3 linked regions of the Homo sapiens genome follow. The protein of the gene in region 1 interacts with the protein of each later gene in a pairwise test. Each region holds a gene or a part of one and is shown in the gene's direction. Other genes may lie near its edges.

What was found. The genes of interacting proteins can lie anywhere in the genome.
Region 2: the proteins of BACH2 (region 1) and ZNF792 interact in binary tests that used the Homo sapiens proteins (3 or more experiments, as listed by UniProt).
Region 3: the proteins of BACH2 (region 1) and ZBTB34 interact in binary tests that used the Homo sapiens proteins (3 or more experiments, as listed by UniProt).

Annotation. Positions count from the first base shown.
Region 1 is NC_000006.12:90,286,835-90,293,954, reverse strand, and holds part of BACH2 (transcription regulator protein BACH2), read left to right. Parts: exon of another isoform or gene 1-1,472; intron 1,473-2,009; exon of another isoform or gene 2,010-2,705; intron 2,706-7,120. UniProt on the Homo sapiens protein: Transcriptional regulator that acts as a repressor or activator. Binds to Maf recognition elements (MARE). Plays an important role in coordinating transcription activation and repression by MAFK.
Region 2 is NC_000019.10:34,955,854-34,961,229, reverse strand, and holds the end of ZNF792 (zinc finger protein 792), read left to right. Parts: intron 1-235; coding exon 236-362; intron 363-872; coding exon 873-995; intron 996-1,658; coding exon 1,659-3,274; 3' UTR 3,275-4,876; downstream 4,877-5,376. UniProt on the Homo sapiens protein: May be involved in transcriptional regulation.
Region 3 is NC_000009.12:126,855,942-126,863,638, forward strand, and holds the start of ZBTB34 (zinc finger and BTB domain-containing protein 34), read left to right. Parts: upstream 1-4,697; 5' UTR 4,698-4,798; intron 4,799-5,237; exon of another isoform or gene 5,238-5,295; intron 5,296-7,650; exon of another isoform or gene 7,651-7,697. UniProt on the Homo sapiens protein: May be a transcriptional repressor.

The DNA of each region.
Region 1 (7,120 bases):
TTGAATTATGCCCTTTGACTTAGTATCTTCAGGCAATTCTTTTCCAGTAGCTCACCTCTGGCTGCTGTGTAAGGGGCTTAATTATTTGCAAACTGCCTTGAAATCCCTGGATGAAAGGCACTGAATAAGTGCACAGTATTGTTATTCAGATATGGAATTTAATGATCCATTATAGTTCATCAGGAAAATGCACTTTGCAGTGATGGTAGGAAATGTTTCCACCTGATAGAGGGTAATAATAACTGCTTAAAAGTAGATTCAGATTACAGATGAGACAATTAACTCTAGCCATGTGCTCTTCAATTTGTTGCAATTCATTTTGTGATCAAAGTGAGTCACAGAGGGCCAGATGGTCAGGTTCATGTTCAGATCTCTCCTAGGCCAGCCCTTCACTTCTGGGCCCACTGTCTGCACAGCCGACAGGACTTAGTTATTCATTAGCGCTTGTGAGCTGTTTCTCAGAATTCCTAATCGAGGCTCCTGTGATGCCAACAAAAGGGCTCAAGCCAATCTGTATTGTTGAGAGCAGTTTAATTTTACTTGGATTAACTTTCAGTGTCTCTGGTGTGGATCCAGTCTTAACAAAAAGGAAAGAGACCCTAGTGGCTCTCTATCTCTGCTGTGCCTGGCCCCTCTACTCTAGTTTTTGAACCTCAGATTTCAGGGGTGTGACATCTAGCTTATTGTAAATGCAGGCTTGATTGTTAATGAATGAGAGAATACTTAGATAAATAAATATCTTCCTGTGTGTCCAGGGGGTGAGAGCCAGTACTAGCTTCATGGGCATAAGACCTGTGCAGTTACATAGGCCCCCTTCCTCTTCCCTGCTCAGAAGGACCTCATATTTGGTATAAGGTTCTGCTGTTTTCTTCGGAAATTCTTAATAATTTTTGAACAAAGGGCCCCTCGTTTTCATTTTTCACTGAGCCCTGCAAATTATGTACTTACCTGGTTCTGGTGAGGAGCAGGGCATAGTGTGGAGTGGCAGGCCGCCCCTACTCAACTCATTGTAGACTCTTGCTAGGGAACAGTTGGTAGGACTACTGGCTTTGTGTTGCCACATCATTTGATTTTTCCAGGGGAAGCTGAATATTGGATATTTATGTGGAATTTCCTGATTTTTAAATATTGGCTCAAATCTTTAAAAAATTTTTGGATGAAAGCATATGTAAGAGCTAGTGTCGGCCTGGGGGCTGCTTGTCTCCCACTACTGAACAGACTGAAACATCTTTTTTTGTTTAATATCTTTGTGTGTCTCTGTTTTCTAAAGGCCTGGCATATAGTGGATGATTTGTGAGTATGCACCCAATGAATGGTTACAACTACCTGGAAAATAGAAAGATGCCAAAAAAACAAAACTTCAAATCAACATTGAGTCCCACTCAGGGATTGATCAGCTTCCTTTTTAACAGAGAATTCGACATGAAAGGCCGAATAATTTAATACCATGAGTACAGTGTGATTCCTTGCAGGTGAATAATCCATTACTTTTGAACCACCTGCCCTCTATTTAGTTGTTACTGACCAGATGGGGTAACTTGGCTGGGTAATGCCTGAGGACCTCCATGGGAGTTTGACATTTGAGAACACTCACCAAAATAATAGTTTTGATTTACTGAATCCGCACCATGTGCCAGACCCAGTGCTGACTACCTTGCCTGAATGTACTTCATTGATTCCTCAAAGCAACCCTTTGAAGTAGGTGTCGTGCCTGCCCATTCTGCAGAGTTGGAAGAACTAATCTCATGTTGGAATGAACTTAATCTGAATATAGTGCATGTTTTCTTGAATGTCTGAAGGTTATTTCCCCATTCCATTACACAGTCCAGTCCTGAATCAATGACTGGGCATGGTGTAGGACTGTGACATACAGAGAACATGGTCCCTGCCCTCACATAGAACAGAGAACAATATAAAATGTAACATATTTGTCAAAATCTGCAATTCAGATAGCAGACGCTGTAAATCTGCCTCCCTGTTTTTCTCCTTTCCCTGTCTGGATGTTGAAGAAGTTTCAGCGACATATGACCCTGTCAGAGGTACTCACAGTTCAGAAGTCAATGCTGGTTGCAAAAATTGGAATTTCTTTGGAAAAGAAGACAAGCTTTTGGCAGAGCTGGGGCCACATATGGGAACGCAGCACCAAGGCCTTGGGAATGACGGAAAATCGCTTCTGTATTGTTAATAGCAATATATGACCTCTGCTGTCCTCCTATCTTTAAATTTTATGTAAATATTTACAAACTGTTCATGTCCAAACTGAAACCTGCTATGAACTAAACATTTTGTAAACTCAGTAAGATTGCCCAAAATACAACTCAACTTTCACCTTTTTTTTTTTGTTTGTGATGACATTTAATTTAAAAAAAAAAGACAGTAGTTGCTTTTTTTTTTCTTTTTTTTTGTCAGTTCAGGGTCTTTTAATTTTTTCCCTTTACTTTTTTTTTTGTTAATTTCAAATGTCAGTCTATCTAAAACTGAAACTTAATTTTACTATCAGCATGCTACTCAGCTTCCGTAAGGCTGGAAATGTCCTGCGAATCTTACCACTATGTCTTTTCCAAGGGCCATTTCATTTCTAAAGAATGTATAAATTGAACCTCATCCTGCTAGTGACACTACTTCAAAATTCAGGCAGGAATTTTGCCATTTGTTTTTCCTTGAGCTATTTTTTTTCCAAAATAATAAATCTTCCCAATCCAAAAGCATTTCACATCATCCTTCATTCTAGTCATTGGAACTACAGCCAAAATGCCTCTCAGTCTTCCCCAGTGACTTCATAATCACCGTTTCTTCAGCATATTCCCTGGTTGACTTCTCCTTTGTTCCTTAGCCTCATAATGAATTGCCCTTTGGTTCTGAGATGTGTCATTTTCCTCCCTGACCTTTTTGTTCTTTTCCTGAAGGCTGTAGGACATGCTGCTGCTGATGTGATGAGAGCCGGCGCTTGGTTGCTAGGTCCCTCCTGTCCTTGTGTCAGCTTTCATTGGCTCCTTTCCTAAGCATTTAAATCCTCCACTTTCCAGTCCTCCCATTCATCTCATTATTCTCTTCATGTGTGCCTGAGCCTGTAGCTGGCATGTAGACAAAGTCCCAGTTAGTTAGAAGAAAGCTTTTCGAGTTTCCAAGTCTTCCATCACTCTAGTCTTGGGCCATCTTCTATTCTCCCTCCCCTGTCACTTTCTGCAGATACTTCAGGAATTTCCTCAAGACTTTCCAGGAGTCTAACCCAAAGACAGCTTAGACCTTCACTTCGGATTTTAAAGTTGGGAGATCCCAATGTGATGATTTCCATTCCACAAGTAGGAAACAAAGTGAATGTACATGCTCAGCATCTTTCCTTAGTATTTCAGTATCCATAGATTTTTGGCAATTTTTCTTTTTTTCCTATCCTGTATTCTTCTAAGCAACAGAAGCTCGTGGATAGTGCAAAATGGGCCAAGTGTCCAGAAATACTGTTGCTTAGAGGCAGATGCCTCATTCATTCATTAAACAAATATATACTGAGTATCTCTTACATGGCAGGCATAGTGTTAAGTGACCACAGTGCTAATGGGGAGCAAACCCAGTCCTGGCCCCTGGTCTCATGAAGCACGTCATCTGGTAGGAAGAATGGCACTGATCAGTTAGTAACAGATAACCCACTGCTCGTGAAGGAAAGTATTTCATACACCAGAGTGTCTAATGGGCAGATTTAACCTGGTCGGGAGGTTGGGGAAGCCCTCCCTGAGGAATTGTGGAGTGACCTTCCATCAGGGACAGTCTGAAACTTGAGATTCACTTTTTCTCCAGCTTCCTAATCCTATTAATTCACTACTATCTTTGGCCCTTTGGAGTATTGCCTAAGCCATGCTGGAACCTCTGGGGCCATTTTGGCAAATAATAGTTCCTGTATACAGAGTCCAGAATTGATTTATTTACCTGGGTCTTTAGAACCTGATAAAAACAGAAGTTAACTGCCAAGAGTACTGTTCATTTCCATACTTGGAAAAAATACAAGTTAACATTCTTATTTTGAACATATTTAGGTTGGTTTTGACAATATTTGAATGATCAGAAGCTACAAAGATATTCTCTCCCAGTCAGCTGATGTGTGTAGGGCCTTTGGTGAAAAAGTGAGTCTAAATAGTCTGTCTGAAGTCCCTGGCTACTCCAGAGCAGAGGGTCTCCATCCTCTGTGGCCCGAAGATTATTCCAAGCTTGTCCAACCCATGGCCAGCAGGCCTCTTGCGTGTTGAATGCGGACCAACACAAAGGTTTTTTGTTTTTGTTTTTGTTTGTTTGTTTTTTGTTTTTTGCTATTTTTCTTGTTTCAGCTCATCATGTATCATTAGTGTTGAGTGTATTTTATGTGTGGCCCAAGACAGTTCTCCTTCTTCCAGTGTGTCCCAGGGAAGCCAAAAGATTGGACACGTCTTATTTAGACCATTCTTAGATGCAAAATTAAGGAATTTTGACAGCATCTATTTAAAATAAATTGATTATACTTCATGCTAACACCCCTCTATTTTCTTTTTCTTTGATGATAGTTAACTTGTATTGAGAGCTTCCTCTGTGTGCTGCTCATATTAACTCACATAATCCTCAGAACAACCCAGGGCTAGGTGTGATCACTAGAAGCCGCAGCATAGGTGTCGCTCAGCTAATGAATGGTAGAACTGGAGTTGGACACTAGCTGTCTGATGCTTGGGCCTGTTCTCTTACCATGTTATGGCTCTCCCTTTTCCTTTTCTTCTTCATTTGAAGTTGGAACTCTCTTTAGCAGTTCCCAGAAGTAGAAATAAAGGTCATCTCACTCTAAAATATTGGATGTTTTGTTGACATCTATCTTAAAGTTAAAAAATAATTTCTCAGTAAATCTGAGTGAGTATATCTCCTGTCTTTCACATGGCCTGCTTTCTAATAATTGCATTCCTTAGGTTTTAGTGTCCATTTAGGGATCGGAAAGTAAAAGTGATGCATATAAAGGCAAAAGAAGTACTAGGCATATAACTGAAATACCATGGCTCTGTCTCCAGGGTTTACTTGTAACTCACACTCCTACCCTCTTGTTAGGTGGAGGGAATTTGTTTTTTGCGTTTTGTTTTTTGTTTTTTGTTTTTTTGGTGGGTAGGAAAAGGTAAAAAACTATACCTGTAAGAGGTAGAGTATTCTACCAAGGAGGAAGATGTTCATTCAGAACTAATTCCATCAGAAATCCTAATTAGAAATATTAGCTACCAGTAACAGATAAAAGGAGGTAACCTTTGTTCTCATTCTGGTCAATTTCAGGAAGAGATTATCTTGCCAGATTAGCATGTTGCAACTCTCAGCTGGAGATTTGAATGGTTTTAAAGGACTCAGGCAGTTGGTATGGCAGTAACCCCCAATTACCTCAGGTTTGCAGGGTCACTGTTTAGAATGCTGACTCAGCTCTGCCTGGGCCAGACACCGAAGTTGTCATCTTTAGTCAAGAAGCATCATTCTCAGGAGCCACTTGAAACATTAAGCACACATTTGAAGCTCAATTTGGGAAATGATCAAGTGTATGAATGTATAGTACTGTGCTTATTTTTCAGCATTTAGTTCAAATTTTGGAGAAAGCTAAATGGGAGATGCTTAGTGTGTCAGTGTTGGAGGTTTTAAGTGATTTAAAAAATCAAGCAGATGAGTGCATAAAGATTTCTATGCAAACAATGTTGAGCTTAAATTAAAGCTGCTGATTTAGTGTGAGAATTACTTGCATTGATTTGTAGAATATCTATGTGGGTTCAAGATTCCATATTATGCAAATGAATAAGCCCTGAAGAGTCAAACTGAAAAAAAAATGAAATTAACTGTGAAAGATATTATTACCCATTCAGCAAGAGGAAAATGTAGACAGAGTTAACCCTTCCTTTTCATACATTTTCTTGGGAAGATAAGTGCCAGGGATGATGGTCCGTGTCCCAGATGTAAAGAAGCTAGGCACGGTTTGCAGCCAGTTCCCCCATCCTCCTTCTGTGCTCACTTTTTTGTTTCATGCTCTCTTACCTTTTGGCCACCCAGTCCCCTCAACTAGTCCTTGTCCTTCCCTTCCAAAACCAATCTCAGAGAAAGATTTTATGAACACAGTTTTACTAATATATAAGTAACTGAGCATACTTAATGTGTTACTTTTCTGAAGCATCAGCATGTTAATAGGAGACAAAGCCAAAGAAGTAAAACCCTAAAGATAAAAACAATAGAATTTCGCACACTGGTAACCTGGTGATAGGAGACCATTTCTGAATGGAGAGAGGGCTCGTGATAAATAAACACAACCCTAGGCAGAGAATATAGGCAAATGGATTACAGTATTTAAATCAAAGTAGTATTAAAATACAAAGAGAAGATTATTTTTAATAATACATTTGTCAGTGAGCATTTCCCGCCTTTTGCCGTACATTGGAGTTGATCACATAAACCTCTATAGCAAGATGGTATGTTATTTAACATTTAAACAAAGCTTCCAGGGAAAGCCATTTGGTTTGTGGTTAGGGATTTTTGTTATTCAGTAGCAATGAACCTGAAATTCTATATTATCTTTGCATGTTGAATTTTAGAAGAAAAAAAAAGCAGCGGATCCAACTTCACTTACCTCCCCACCCCAGTTGCATTGATACAAATTGAATTGATAAATTTATTTCAAAATTGGTGTGTCCCAATTTGACATACCACAAGCATAGTGGTGTCAGCATGGTGGTGACATCTGGACATTAGGAGAGTTGGTTGATTAATTAAACTATACTTATTTTAGATAGAGTTGTTGGCAGGTAAATACCTGGCTGTAGAGTCAACGCCCTTCAGTCCCACCTCTCCCCCACCATACCCTTCTCCAGCAACCATGCTATGTTGAGTTGATGGCTCCATCTAGTGCCAGTCTGTGGAACTGTCTTGCAGGACTTCACTGTCACCTCCAGAGCTGGGTATGATGAAGAGTCCTCTTTCTCTGGGAACACACTGTCTAGCGGGGAACTGCCCTCTAGTTCCTACCTCTCCTTTGTTTTTGCAGTTTAGTTATACCTCCGTGTCTTTCTTTGTTCCAGACTTAATTTGTTTCCCTCTCTCTAGTACCCCCTCTTTGTACTTGTTTCTCCTCCTTTTTTGTTTTCCAAGTCTC
Region 2 (5,376 bases), on another chromosome or scaffold:
GGCTGGCAGAAGAGCGAGCTGGGCCCTGGACTTCAGGCCCAGAGCTTAGAGGGTGCCTCTCTGCACCCTGCCTGTTGCTGCTGCGGGCTGACACAGTGGTCACATGAGGCGCCCACAGAACCAGGGCCTGCTACCTCCTGGAGCTGTGGAGCTGGGGAGGAGAGTGAGCAGGGGATGGATAGGGAGTCCCAAGGACAGAGACTGATCATGGAACGAACTGTCCCCATCATGGCAGGGCTGCGTGACCTTTGAGGACGTGACCATTTACTTCTCCCAGGAGGAGTGGGTGCTCCTCGATGAGGCTCAGAGACTCCTGTACTGCGATGTGATGCTGGAAAACTTTGCACTTATAGCCTCGCTGGGTAAGGCTGTCACCCCTACCCCGGTGTCCCGAGCTCCTCTCTGCCTGTCCCCTTTGCCCAAGAAACAGCTCTTTCCTTCCCACAGCCAGACCGCTGGCACTGCTTCCATCCCCACTTTCCTGGTATGTGTGTTGTGGCTTCTGGGGCTGAGCTATGTGCATTGTTCCCTCCTCTCCCTGAGCTGCCCCCACACCTGCTGCCTGAAGCCTTGCAGGGAAGCTCCAGGCATGAGGGGTCTTGCGGTTAGCTGTGTGACTACCTCTGACTCGGCCATTCCCTCCTGGGTGATTATCCAGATCTGACAGTTCTGTGGTTTAGATTCTGTGCCTTTCCTCTTGCTAATATTTCCTAAGCCTGACTGTGCCAGGAATTCCAATCACTGATGTGGTTACTGCTTGCCGTGACCACCCAATGTCCCTGTGTCATACGGAGCTTCCTGTCTTGTAGTCTATCATGGGGTAGTTCAACTGGGCAGGTGCTGGCCACTGACCCACTCTGTCTTTCCCTTAGGACTTATATCTTTCAGGTCCCACATCGTTTCCCAGTTGGAGATGGGGAAAGAGCCCTGGGTGCCTGACAGTGTGGATATGACATCAGCCATGGCCAGAGGGGCTTATGGCAGGCCTGGCTCTGGTAAGCAGCGATGGGAGCTAGGGGAGGATGTGACTTCACCACTGTGTTTACATCATACCAGCATCTTCTCTCCTATTCATCATCATTTGATACCAATGCCAGTAGCCAGACCACGTCTCTGCTTTTCCTTCCCCGTGCTTGACACATTATCTACTTGTCATTATTATTCTGAGTTGGGCCCCTTGGCTGTGCCCCACTTTTCTGGCCTCCGTTTCTCTCTTTCAGCTTCCTCTGCGGCACTTTCCAACACTGGCCTACACTTAATGTGTTGTGAGATACGTGCTTTTCCTTGATGTGCTTGAACACCAGCTACTCAGTTGCAGGTTTTGCTGGGTCTAGATGCTCTCACTGCATAGCCCTCACAGGTTACCAGCAGCCCAGGCCCTGCCAAAAGGCCTTTAAAGAGAAGTGAGTGGGAGACCCTGCCTCTCTGCCCAATACTGTCCCCCATCCTTGTGTCCCTGGTCCTGATAAGGCCTCCTGTATTTTGTGACCTGGCCAGGCACAGTATGGCGGAGCAGATTATTCCTTACCCTGACCTGAGCCTTCTTGTGTTGCCAACAATCCCATGGGCTTATTCTTGGGTCAGCCAAGCATAGGTGATGGGGCTCTTTCCTTCTATTAAAGTTTATACGAACTTCACCAGCATTTCTCTGCTTTCAGATTTTTGCCATGGAACAGAGGGCAAGGACTTACCTTCTGAGCATAACGTTTCTGTAGAAGGAGTGGCACAGGACAGGAGTCCCGAGGCAACTCTGTGCCCCCAGAAGACCTGCCCCTGTGACATATGTGGCCTACGTTTGAAAGACATTTTGCATTTGGCTGAACACCAGACAACACATCCCAGGCAGAAACCATTTGTGTGTGAGGCATATGTGAAAGGCTCTGAGTTCAGTGCAAACCTTCCCCGGAAACAGGTGCAGCAGAACGTACACAACCCTATCAGAACGGAGGAGGGCCAGGCTTCCCCTGTAAAGACCTGCAGAGACCACACATCAGATCAGCTTTCCACCTGCAGGGAGGGTGGGAAGGACTTTGTGGCCACAGCAGGGTTTCTGCAGTGTGAGGTCACTCCCAGCGATGGGGAGCCGCACGAGGCCACCGAAGGTGTGGTGGATTTTCACATTGCACTAAGGCATAACAAGTGCTGTGAATCTGGGGATGCCTTCAATAACAAATCCACTCTTGTTCAGCACCAGAGAATCCACAGCAGAGAAAGGCCTTATGAATGCAGCAAATGTGGAATCTTCTTCACTTACGCCGCTGACCTCACTCAACACCAGAAAGTTCACAATAGAGGAAAACCGTATGAGTGCTGTGAATGTGGAAAATTCTTCAGCCAGCACTCCAGCCTTGTTAAACATCGCAGGGTTCACACCGGTGAAAGCCCTCACGTGTGTGGTGACTGTGGGAAATTCTTCAGCCGAAGCTCCAACCTCATTCAGCATAAGAGGGTTCACACTGGTGAAAAGCCATATGAGTGCAGCGACTGTGGGAAGTTCTTCAGCCAGCGTTCCAACCTCATTCATCATAAGAGGGTTCATACGGGCAGAAGTGCCCATGAGTGCAGTGAATGTGGGAAATCTTTCAACTGCAACTCCAGCCTAATTAAACATTGGAGAGTTCACACTGGAGAAAGACCTTACAAGTGTAACGAATGTGGGAAATTCTTCAGCCACATTGCCAGCCTCATTCAACATCAGATAGTTCACACTGGCGAGCGGCCTCACGGGTGTGGTGAGTGTGGGAAAGCCTTCAGCCGAAGCTCTGACCTCATGAAACATCAGCGAGTTCACACTGGTGAGCGGCCTTATGAATGCAATGAATGTGGGAAGTTATTTAGCCAGAGCTCCAGCCTCAATAGCCATCGGAGACTTCACACTGGTGAACGGCCTTACCAGTGCAGTGAATGTGGGAAATTCTTTAACCAAAGCTCCAGCCTCAATAACCACCGGAGACTTCACACCGGCGAGCGGCCTTATGAGTGCAGCGAATGTGGGAAAACCTTCAGGCAGAGGTCCAATCTGAGGCAGCACCTGAAAGTTCACAAACCAGACAGGCCTTACGAATGCAGCGAATGTGGGAAAGCCTTCAACCAAAGGCCTACCCTCATTCGGCATCAGAAGATTCACATCAGAGAAAGGAGCATGGAGAATGTGCTCCTTCCCTGTTCACAGCACACACCAGAGATAAGCTCTGAGAACAGACCTTATCAGGGCGCTGTCAACTACAAGTTGAAACTTGTTCATCCAAGTACCCACCCTGGGGAGGTTCCCTAGGAATGCTAGCTGTGTTGGAAGCTTTCTGGAGACAAGTTACATTCTCTTACTGTAGAGTTTATCAGCGTTTTTTCACTGCTGGGGTTGTGATAGAAGCCATGTCAGCACCACACACTGCAGCTCTCCAAAGAGTGTGTCCACCACTCCACTGTGCTCAGGGAAGGCAGACCTCTCCTCTCTCTTTCCAATCCCTAAAGGGAATTAGGAGTAGTCTGAAGCCTTGGGAAGATGTCATTCCCGCCCTGTATGGCTGGTTTAGCCATGGACATGACCAGCTTTTGGCTGTGAAGACCTGAGCAGGGTTTTGCCAACAGCTTGTTCTAGAGAAGGTTTCCCTTTTTCTGGGACATTGTTGGTCTCATGTTATGCCTGTGAAGGATTTGTCCAGCCTTCATGTTACTCTACACAACAACTTATCTCCTGTGTATTGCCCTGGTTCATGTGATGATAATGGCCTTATGATAAAGCCGCCTTTAGTCTTCCATGTTCTGATCACTGTGTGGGGTGGTTCAAGAGCAGAGTTAAGATCTACCAAACTGAAGGGGTCTCCAGATTATCTTGGAGGGGACAGGAGGATGGCAGAGAAACAACTGTCAATCCAGATTTGACCTCATTTGCATTGCCACCAAGGCCTCCTAGGAAAAATTGTAGGAATTTATGGGTATAATATTGTGGTCTGAATGGCGTGAATTTTTATCCCGAGGAGGGGGCAGTTGTGACAACCTCCAGTGCATGTGGGAACAGCATGAATTGGGTCCCTTATTCCCAGGGGGTGCCCCATATTCCCCAATACTGTAAAGCAGATGCTGTTTAGCACCTGCCAAGGAGCCATATGCCCTGAAGTTCAGCATTAGGCAGGTATCTCTTAACTGTAAGACATACCAGGCCCAGCTGGGACCATAATTTGTACAGAAACACTGGATGTGATTAATAGGGAGTAGGCGAGATTATAGCAAACCAGCAGAAATGGAACTCTGCTAAATGTGCATCCGTGAATGCTCCCTTGAATGTGGCTGTGCAGGATTCAGGGTTTGCAGAAATTCTCAGGACCTCAGACCTCTGTCCTATGACTAATGTTACTGGCAGAGCAAATAATCTAAAGGTTTTGGTTTTGTGGATTACCATCTCCGTGCTGTGCATCTGAAGGCCAGTGCTGTGCTGGCAGGAAAATAGGGACTGAGAAAAAGCAGATCCTATACTATAGGGACTGTAGTATCTATGACGTAGCCAGCCATTCTTTGCTCCCAAGGCAAGAAGAAAGAGATGACAGAGTCAATATAGGGTTGCCAAATCGGATTTTCTAAAATGAGTAGGAAGTTGGATTTTTATGTGCAACAGTTTCTTTTAATGCTTTGTTGATATGTGATTGTCATGCAATAATTATTCATATTTGGTAAGTTTTGTACATATATTATGTACACTCAGGGAACCAATACCATAATCATGATAATGAACGTATCCATCACCTGCAAAGCTACCTCATGCCCCTTTACATTCCCTCCTTGCCTTCCCTAGGAAACCGTTGATTTACATTTTTTACTTTAGATTTGTTTGCCTTTTCTAGAATTAACACAATTGGAATCATAAAGTATTTATACTCTCTTTTGGTCTGGTTTCTTTCATGCAGCATAATTATCTTGAGAATCATCCATGCTGTGTGTATATATAGTTCATTCCTTTTACTACTGAGTAGTGCTATACTGGGTGAGTGCACCATAGTTTTTTATGGTTTATTTAAAAATGTTAAAAAAATCTGATGAAATATACTTAACATGAAATTTACTATCCTAACCATTTTTAGTGTATACTTCAATGGTATTAAGTAGATTCGTATTGTTATGTAACCATCACCACCATTCGTCTCCAGAACTCTTCAATCTTGCAAAACTGAAATTCTGTACCTGTCAAGCAATAACTTCCCATTTTCCCTTCCCCAGCCCCTCAAAACCACCATTCTACTTCCTGTCTGTATGAATTTGACCACTCTAGGTACCTCATATAAGTAGAATAATAAGTATTTGTCTTTTTGTAGCTAGCTTATTTCACACTTAGCATAATATTCTCAAGGTTCATCAATGTTGGAGCATATGTCAGAATTTCCT
Region 3 (7,697 bases), on another chromosome or scaffold:
TTATCCTTATGGGTCAAGGGAAGCTTCCAGGTAGGGGCTGGTTAGGACCAAGAAAGCACTTACAGTGAGGGGAGAACCAGTCTTAAGGCATGATACAGGTAAAAGGGGAAGAGAAATGGGGCTTCAGTCTCTTCATTCATTCATTCAGCAAACGTTGTTGCCCATTCAGCACCAGGTTCTCTGTAAGGTACAGGGAAAATGGAACAATAAAGCAGTCCTTGCCCTCAGGGAATATAGACTTAGAAGAAAAACAGGTAGCCTCTCATTTTCTGTTAATCCAAAAAATATTTATTAAGTATCAAGCACTGAAGAAATAGCAGGGAAGAAGTCAGACAAGTTCTCATCCTCATGGAGTTTACAGGCTAGTGGTAGGAGACACAGCTATTAAACACATAATTATACAGGTAATTAATTGCCATTGTGATTACTACAAAGAAGTGCAGAGTGCCAGGAGAGTCAGTTAAGAGTGCTGGAGAACCAGCAGGAAACCAGGAGGGCGCAGACCAAGAAGAAAATTACAGAGGGGAAGAACTCCAGAGGCAGCACCTGGGCCCAGCGGGTGTCAGCAGGGCTCAGGTCAGAGAGAGGCAGGACCTGCATGGAAGCTGAACAGGGGAGGCAGGCGGAGAGTAGAGAGCAAGTCATCTCTGCAGGAAGTGAGGAGTGGCCTCATGGAAATGGGTGGCGGCTCTTGAGACCATCCTTTCTCCCTTTCTTTCCTCCCTTTCCTTCCTTCCCTTCCTCCTTTCCTTTTTCCTTTCCTTTCTTCCTTTCTTTTTTTTTTTTTTTGAGACAGGGTCTTACTCTGTTGCCCAAGCTGGAATGCGGCGGTGCCATCAGAGCTTACTGTAGCCTCAATCTCCCAGGCTCAAGTGATCTTCCCACCTCCCATCTCAGCATCCCAGAGTAGCTAAGCCTGTAGGTGCACACCACCATGCCTGACTAATTTTTGTAGAGAAGGGGTCTTGCCATGTTGCCCAGGCTGGTCTTGAGCTCCTGTGCTCAAGCAATCCTCCCACCTCAGCCTCCCAAAGTGCTGGGATTACAGGCGTGAGCCACTGCACCCGGCCTTCCCTTGCTTTCTTGCTGATCAAAAATATTTATTGAGTATGCCATTCTGAAAACATTAAATTATTATCTTATTTGCCCACTGAGGTAGGTACCATCCCCGTTGCTACACAGACAAGGAGGCCAAGGCTCAGTAGGGTCAAATGTCTTGCCCCATCTCAGGTCACAGAGGTCTTGTGTGGCTGAGCTGGGGTTTAGACCTGGATCTGCCTTATTGCTTAGCCACAGGATTCTCTACTGCCCGGTCTTGATCACGGAAAAGAAGCTCTTCAGATCACACCCCTCAGCCTCACCATCATCTAACAGGTGAAGAAGAGAAGCTCCGAGGGGTAAACCAACTACCTGGTCCCCATTGTAAAGGTGGTGAGTGTCTGAGGGTTCTCCAAGGAAGTGCTCTCCCTGACCCATGAGGAATGTTCACCCTCCTCTGCAGAGGCAGCCAGGTAGAAGGAACCCTGACCTACTGGAATGATCTGGAAGTCAGTGGACATCTTGGGACTGTTTGGAGAGACAGGCTCCCCCTTCGACGGTACTGTTCAGGTAGTGAGGCATGTGGAAGGGACACACTAGTGGGTCCTGATTAGAGGAGGAAGAATGAGGAAACCGCAAATAATTCATATATTTTGTTTAAGGGAGACACATGAGTTATGTGTGTGTATAAAGACTAACAGGTGCCAACAGTCAACAGGTTTTGCCAAACTCTGAGGATTGCCAGGTGGACCAGAGCCAAGTCCTGCAGCTGGACTTCTGGCAGAAAGGGTCCCTTGTGGAGGCCAGAAGGAGAAGCTGGGACCAGTTATAACCTGGCTATCTTGGCTCTCCAAGTGCTCAGGAATCTGGAATCAATGAGAAGCGGAGATTCAGGCCGTATCTGTCCAAGGAGGGGGAGAAGAGGAAAGAATGGGAAGGGAATTAACTTTTACGGCAGACTCACACATGCCAAGCACTTCACAGGCTACCTCAATTAACACATGACATGGCGAGGAGGCTGGAGATGTGTTTTAGCCATGTGCTGTGGAAGAAGAAAAGGCAGAACACAAGTATTGGTAAGCTATCAGCCATCACCCTCACATAGGCTGACCCCCACGATGGGAAGCCCCACACCTTTTTTTTTTTTTTTAAGAGAGGGTCTTACACTGATGCCCAGGCGGGAGTGCAGTGTGGTGATCATGGCTCACTGCAGCCTTGACCTCCAGGGCTCACGCGATCCTCCACCTCAGCCTCCCAAGTAGCCGAGACCACAGCCACGTGGCACCACACTCAGCTTTTTTTTTTTTCTTTTTTGTAGAGATGAGGTTTCACTATATTGCCCAGGCTGGTCTCACACTCCTGGACTCAAGTGATCCTCCTGTCTCAACCTCCCAAAGTGTTTGGGATTACAGGCATGAGCCACCCCACCTGGCCAGAAAACTCCTTCTTAACTGTGGATTGAAGGGCAACCCCAAACTTCAACAAAATGTGAATTGGATCATTTCATAAATGCTGCTGAGGAAAATGGGTAAGTGTGGAATAAATTAAAATGAGACTTGTACATCACTCCCTAGACTTCTTGATTTCAAGGGAGCTAACGAGTTAAATCATTTAAAACTGCCACAAAGATTATGGGAAAACAGAAACACATATGCACCTCAACTGTGGAGGAGTGACAGTTTTTTAACTAAAATTAGTAGAGACCATGACAATCAGCTAAACAACAAGAACGAAAAAAGCAAGGGGCTGGAAAAATATATAAATGATGAGTTTGGTGACCCAGTTAGGTGGGAGAGTAAATATAAACTATGAGGGAAATACCCAGCATCCAATGGACAGACAGAGGGCCAACAACTTTGAGACACTTGGCAGAGGAGGGTCAAAAACTCAGGAACTATTTTAGTCTTTATAGTACTTAATGATATGCAAATATTGTGTCACAGCCAAGAAGACCCTAACTCTTATCAACGAATTTAGCAAAAATCAGTTAAAATGATGAGGCCCAAGGCTGATCTGTAGGAAAACCTCTGGGCATAAGAATCAGCTCAGCAGTCCGGAGGAAACCTGACAAGATGATGTATTCCTGTGCCCTGGGTGCACACGTATCTCACCCTTGGGGACAGATCTCAAGAAAACAACTCAAGTGCAATAGCAATTCAAGAGCGAGACTACCTGTCTGCCCAGGTGCCTGCAGTTATAGGCAGGTTGCCTAAAATCCTATGCTTGGATGTTCTGTTGCTATAAGAAGTCAGAGAGACAAGGGAGTTCATCCCAAGTCTGCCATTTACTAGCTGTGTGACTTTGGATAAGTCACTCAACCTCTCTGAGCCTCAGTTCCCTCTTGGATTAAAATGGGAATAGATCGCCACCTCCTTAGGTTGTGTTAAATGAGGTCATGGCTGTCAAGTGTCTACACAGTGCCCTGCATGGAGTGTTTGACAAAGGGTAGCTGTTGCTATTGGAGGATGACCACTGGACAGATCCTGGAGAGACAGTTCCTGCTTGCAAAGGATGAAGTAACATCAGGAAGTCTCAGCAGCTTTCTATCCTGAAGAGGAGCTGGTATCTTTGCCTCCTAGTTTATTTTTATTACAAAGCCAGAAAAAGGAAAATAAACCTCTGCCACAACTACTGACTCCACCAAAATGCAAAGGGAAGCTCTTCAAAGAGTGTTACATTGGTCTAATGCTGGGAGGAAAACGCTGGGTGAGGCTCCCACTCCCACCCAACGGTTTGAAGACTGGGGTGTCCCCAAGGGTCTGGAAATGCACATTTTTTGAGGCATGCTCTGTGACATGGGTTTTATAACAGTGAGTTGGGAATTTTCACCTCCGTTTTGTTTTTGAGACAGGGTCTTGCTCTTTCACCACTGCTGAAGTACAGTGACACGATCATGGCTCATCGCAGCCTCGACCTCCCGGACTCAAGCGACCCTCCCACCTCAGCCTCCCCAATAGCTGGAACTACAGGCATGTGCCACCAAGCCTGGCTAAGTTTTAAAAATTTAAATGGGGCCTCCCTATGTTGCCCAGGCTGGTCTCAAACTCCTAGGATCAAGTGATCCTCCCGCCTCGCCCTCCCAAAGTGCTGGGATTACAGGCGGGAGCCACCTCCGTTTTGAGAGAGAGAAAACCTGCCCAAGGTGGTAAGTCAAGAGACCCCCTATGACAGGTCCCCAGAGCCCTGCTGCTAACCACTGCACCTTGCTGCCTTCAGCTGCCCTGCCAGGAGCAGCTCGGGTGCGTGGCATGCGCCTGAAGAGATGCAGGAGGGAGGGTCTTGGAAGGGAGGGCTGGGCTGGGGGCAGGCCCCCCAGTGCTGGGGGGGTCGAGGGTCCTGGGCTCTCTCCCACCCGTTCGATTCCGGGAGCCCCTGAAACGCGCCCCACTGCACCGCCCTTCTCCCGCCAGCAGGGGGCGCCGAGGAGAGCGCGGGCTGAAGGCAGAGCCGACGCCGCTTCCCGGAGTCGGGACTCCGGGGTCCAGACCAAGGCTGCCGCTAGCCCGCGGCGAGGCTCTGGGACGACAACCGGGCGGGACTCAGGACCCCGGGCCCTGGCTAGAGGTCCGCCGCGCAACGCCACCACCCGGGTTGGCGCCTGCCCGGAAGCGCGGGCGTCCAGGGGGCGGGGCCGGGAAGCGCTTCCGGGGGCGGGGGGCGCGGGCTGGGGCGGCAGCCGGAGCGGCGGGGACTGGCCTGGCGCCGGCGGCGGCGGAGGGGGCGCCGCGGGCGGGCGATGTGAGCGCGGCGCTCTGGACAGGTGAGGCACGCTGGCCGGGGGCGGCGAGCAGCGGGCTAGGCGCGGGCGGGGCAGGCGGGGCAGGCGGGGCGGGGGGCAGTCCCCGGGCCGCTGTCCGGCTCCCTCTGGGCGCGGCGGGGCGGGAGCCTCCGCGCCTGGTCAGTCCCGCGGGCAGGCGGCCGGCGCGGGCGGGAGCCGAGGCCGGGCGGGGTCCGGAGGCCCCGGGCACCTGCTGGGGTCAGGCGCGCGTCCCCGAGGGGCCAGCTGTGCTCGGTCCTGGAGTCCCGGCGCCGCTGGCCCGGCTGAGGGTCGCGCTCGGGCAGCTGCCCTGGGCTCCCAGCCTCCGCCCGGGGCGTCTCGGGATCCCCAGCTTCCGGGCCCCTAGCCCTGGGGGCGCTCCCTTTTGTACGGGGAGGGAGGGCAGATGGTTGAGTTCCCTGGAGAGCCGGCCGGGCCAGGGGTCGGCCCTTCGGGTGGCTGCCACGGAGCCGCTGCCTCACGCCACCGCCTTCCTCCAGGTAAACAGGCGGCGGCGACGGGTTGCGCTTGGCCCCAGACGTCTCCGTGGCCACTCGCGCTCAGTTGGTCCTGCCATTGCGGAGGGCTGGGCTGGGGCTGACCGGGGTTGTAAACAGTGCCCTTCTAGGCCAAGTGGCTGTGCTTTCAGGGCGGCACTCGTCTGGGAGTCTCTGTCTTGAGGCCTTCCGCAAGCCCCTTCCATGCTAGGACTCAGTTTCCCCATGTGATCATTGAGGGTTTCATTTAACTCTCTAAGAACCCTTCTGGCTCTGCCATTCCGTGTATGTCTCAAATTGGAAGGGCTGTCCCTGATTCAAGATACTGGGCAGTTTCGCTGAAGACTTTGTCAGTGTGGACTTTTTAAGCCACTTACTGCATTTTGTTTCAGACAGGCTTTAAAATGATTTCAAGAAGCGTTTTCTAAACCTCACCTTAATCCTCATTCATCCCTTGCTTTTGTCCCTAGTAGTAGTTAATCACATTCCGCCGAGTTTTTGCATGCAGAATTTTTTGTTGTTTATATTTGCCCATTTTCTCTTTGTTCCCTAGTCCAGGCCCTCTTTGCTTCACATCTGGATTATTGCAACAGCTTCTAAGCTGGTCGCTGACTCCAGAGGTTCCCCCCTCCCCCATCCTTCCTTTATGCTAAAGCCAAACTTACTATAGGAAGTCAAAAAATAGTTGAGTGCTTGCTTGCTTATTAAATGGCAAGATGCTGTTCCATGTGGTGGGAAAGTAGTAGAAGGCACACTTACAGTCTCCAGGCAGCTTTACACAGGGTGCTGAGACATTACTTATGAAAAGGTAATTTTGATGAGACAAGGCTGTGTGCTGTAGAATTAAGAAGGAGAGATGGAGGTCACTGTAGGCCGAGTGGTTAGGGAGGGTTTAGTGAGGGGCGGGATTTGAGCCGGGTGTTAAAGGATGAGTAGCATTCAGATAGGAAAAGAGGAATCAGGCCCAGTGATCCTATGGAGTTAGTGAATAGACCAGTCTCCTGGCAGAGAAGGGTTCATATAGGAGGGAAGTAGGAGGAGAGGTGGGCCGCGGCTAGTTCCTCAACTCAAACACTAGGTCAAAGTTGAAACTACTGAAGGCATTGGTGAAGAAGCTAGAGGCCAGGAGATCAGTTAAGAGGCCACGGCAGTTATACCACTGTTCAAAGCTGAGTAGTGGCCTCTTGCCTGCCACGGTATGTCCAGCCACCGCCCACCCTGTCTTTTCAAGACTCTCCGTGGTTTGGCCCCACCCCACCTACCTGAACCTTATTCTCTGCTTCTCCAAGTCTGTCCCCTGCAGAACTGAGTTAGTTACGGCTTCTTGGGTTTTGCTTCTGTTGTTCCCCCTTCTGAAGCACTGGCCTCCTTTTTCTTTTCTGTGCAAATTCTCCATTTCACTTCCTTCAAGCCCCTGCTGCAGATATACTTCCTCCAGAGGGTGTTCCCTGACTTCCCTGCCCCCATGGCTTTGTGGCACTCGGATTCAGCACTTGTTCCTTGGCTGTTGAACTTGTTCTTGTCCCAACTGGAGTGGGAGTTTTTTTAAGGGCATTGTGTCTTAATACTCCTCTCGGAGACCTTATAGTATCTAATACTGGGGCTGGACTTCTATAATAGGTACTCAAATACTTCCTGATTTTTGTTGGTAAACAACTTTTTGTTTTGTTTTGTAATTTGCCTTTTTTTTTTTTTAAGGAGAATCTGTTTTTATCAGCTTTCTGTGTCATAGATAAGTGATATGTAATGCTACCATTCAAGGTGGATGTTTTCAGCTTGCTCTCTTAGGGTGCAGAAAGCACAAAACGAATCTTTGAAACTTTGAAACGTTTCCCTCTGATCATGGGAAAAGGTAAAAGTCATGTGATTCTTCATTCGGAGGCTGTGGGGAAAGAACAGCAGCTTTGGAATCAGAGACCTGGGTTTGAATCCTAGCAAGTCTGCTTACCAGCTCTGTGAAGTTGAGCAATTTATCTAATGCCTCTGAGCCTCCGTTTCTTATTTGCAGTGTGGAGGATAATAAAATCCAATGAACTGTAAACGAAAATGGAACGAAGTAGAAAAATGTGCAGCACCTAGTAACTGCTTAGTACATTTTCATTATTGTTATTGTCATTATTGGGTGTACATTTATCAAGGTGGAGAAATGATAAGCTGCTGAACTGTGTACCTACTGAGTTTTGGATTTCTGCACCGCTGTGTCCCCCCACTTTTGCCTTCCATTTGAAGCACTTGTCTAAAATGTCAGTACCATGAATCTAGTTACGTTTTATTCCCGTTAATGTTCATGTTACTTTAGTTTAAATTCTGCTTAATGTTTTTCAAACTTCTTAATTGTGTCTATTTAATGTTTTGTAGCTGACAAACTGCTGAATTTAGCTTAGTGAAGGTCATCAACTGAACGC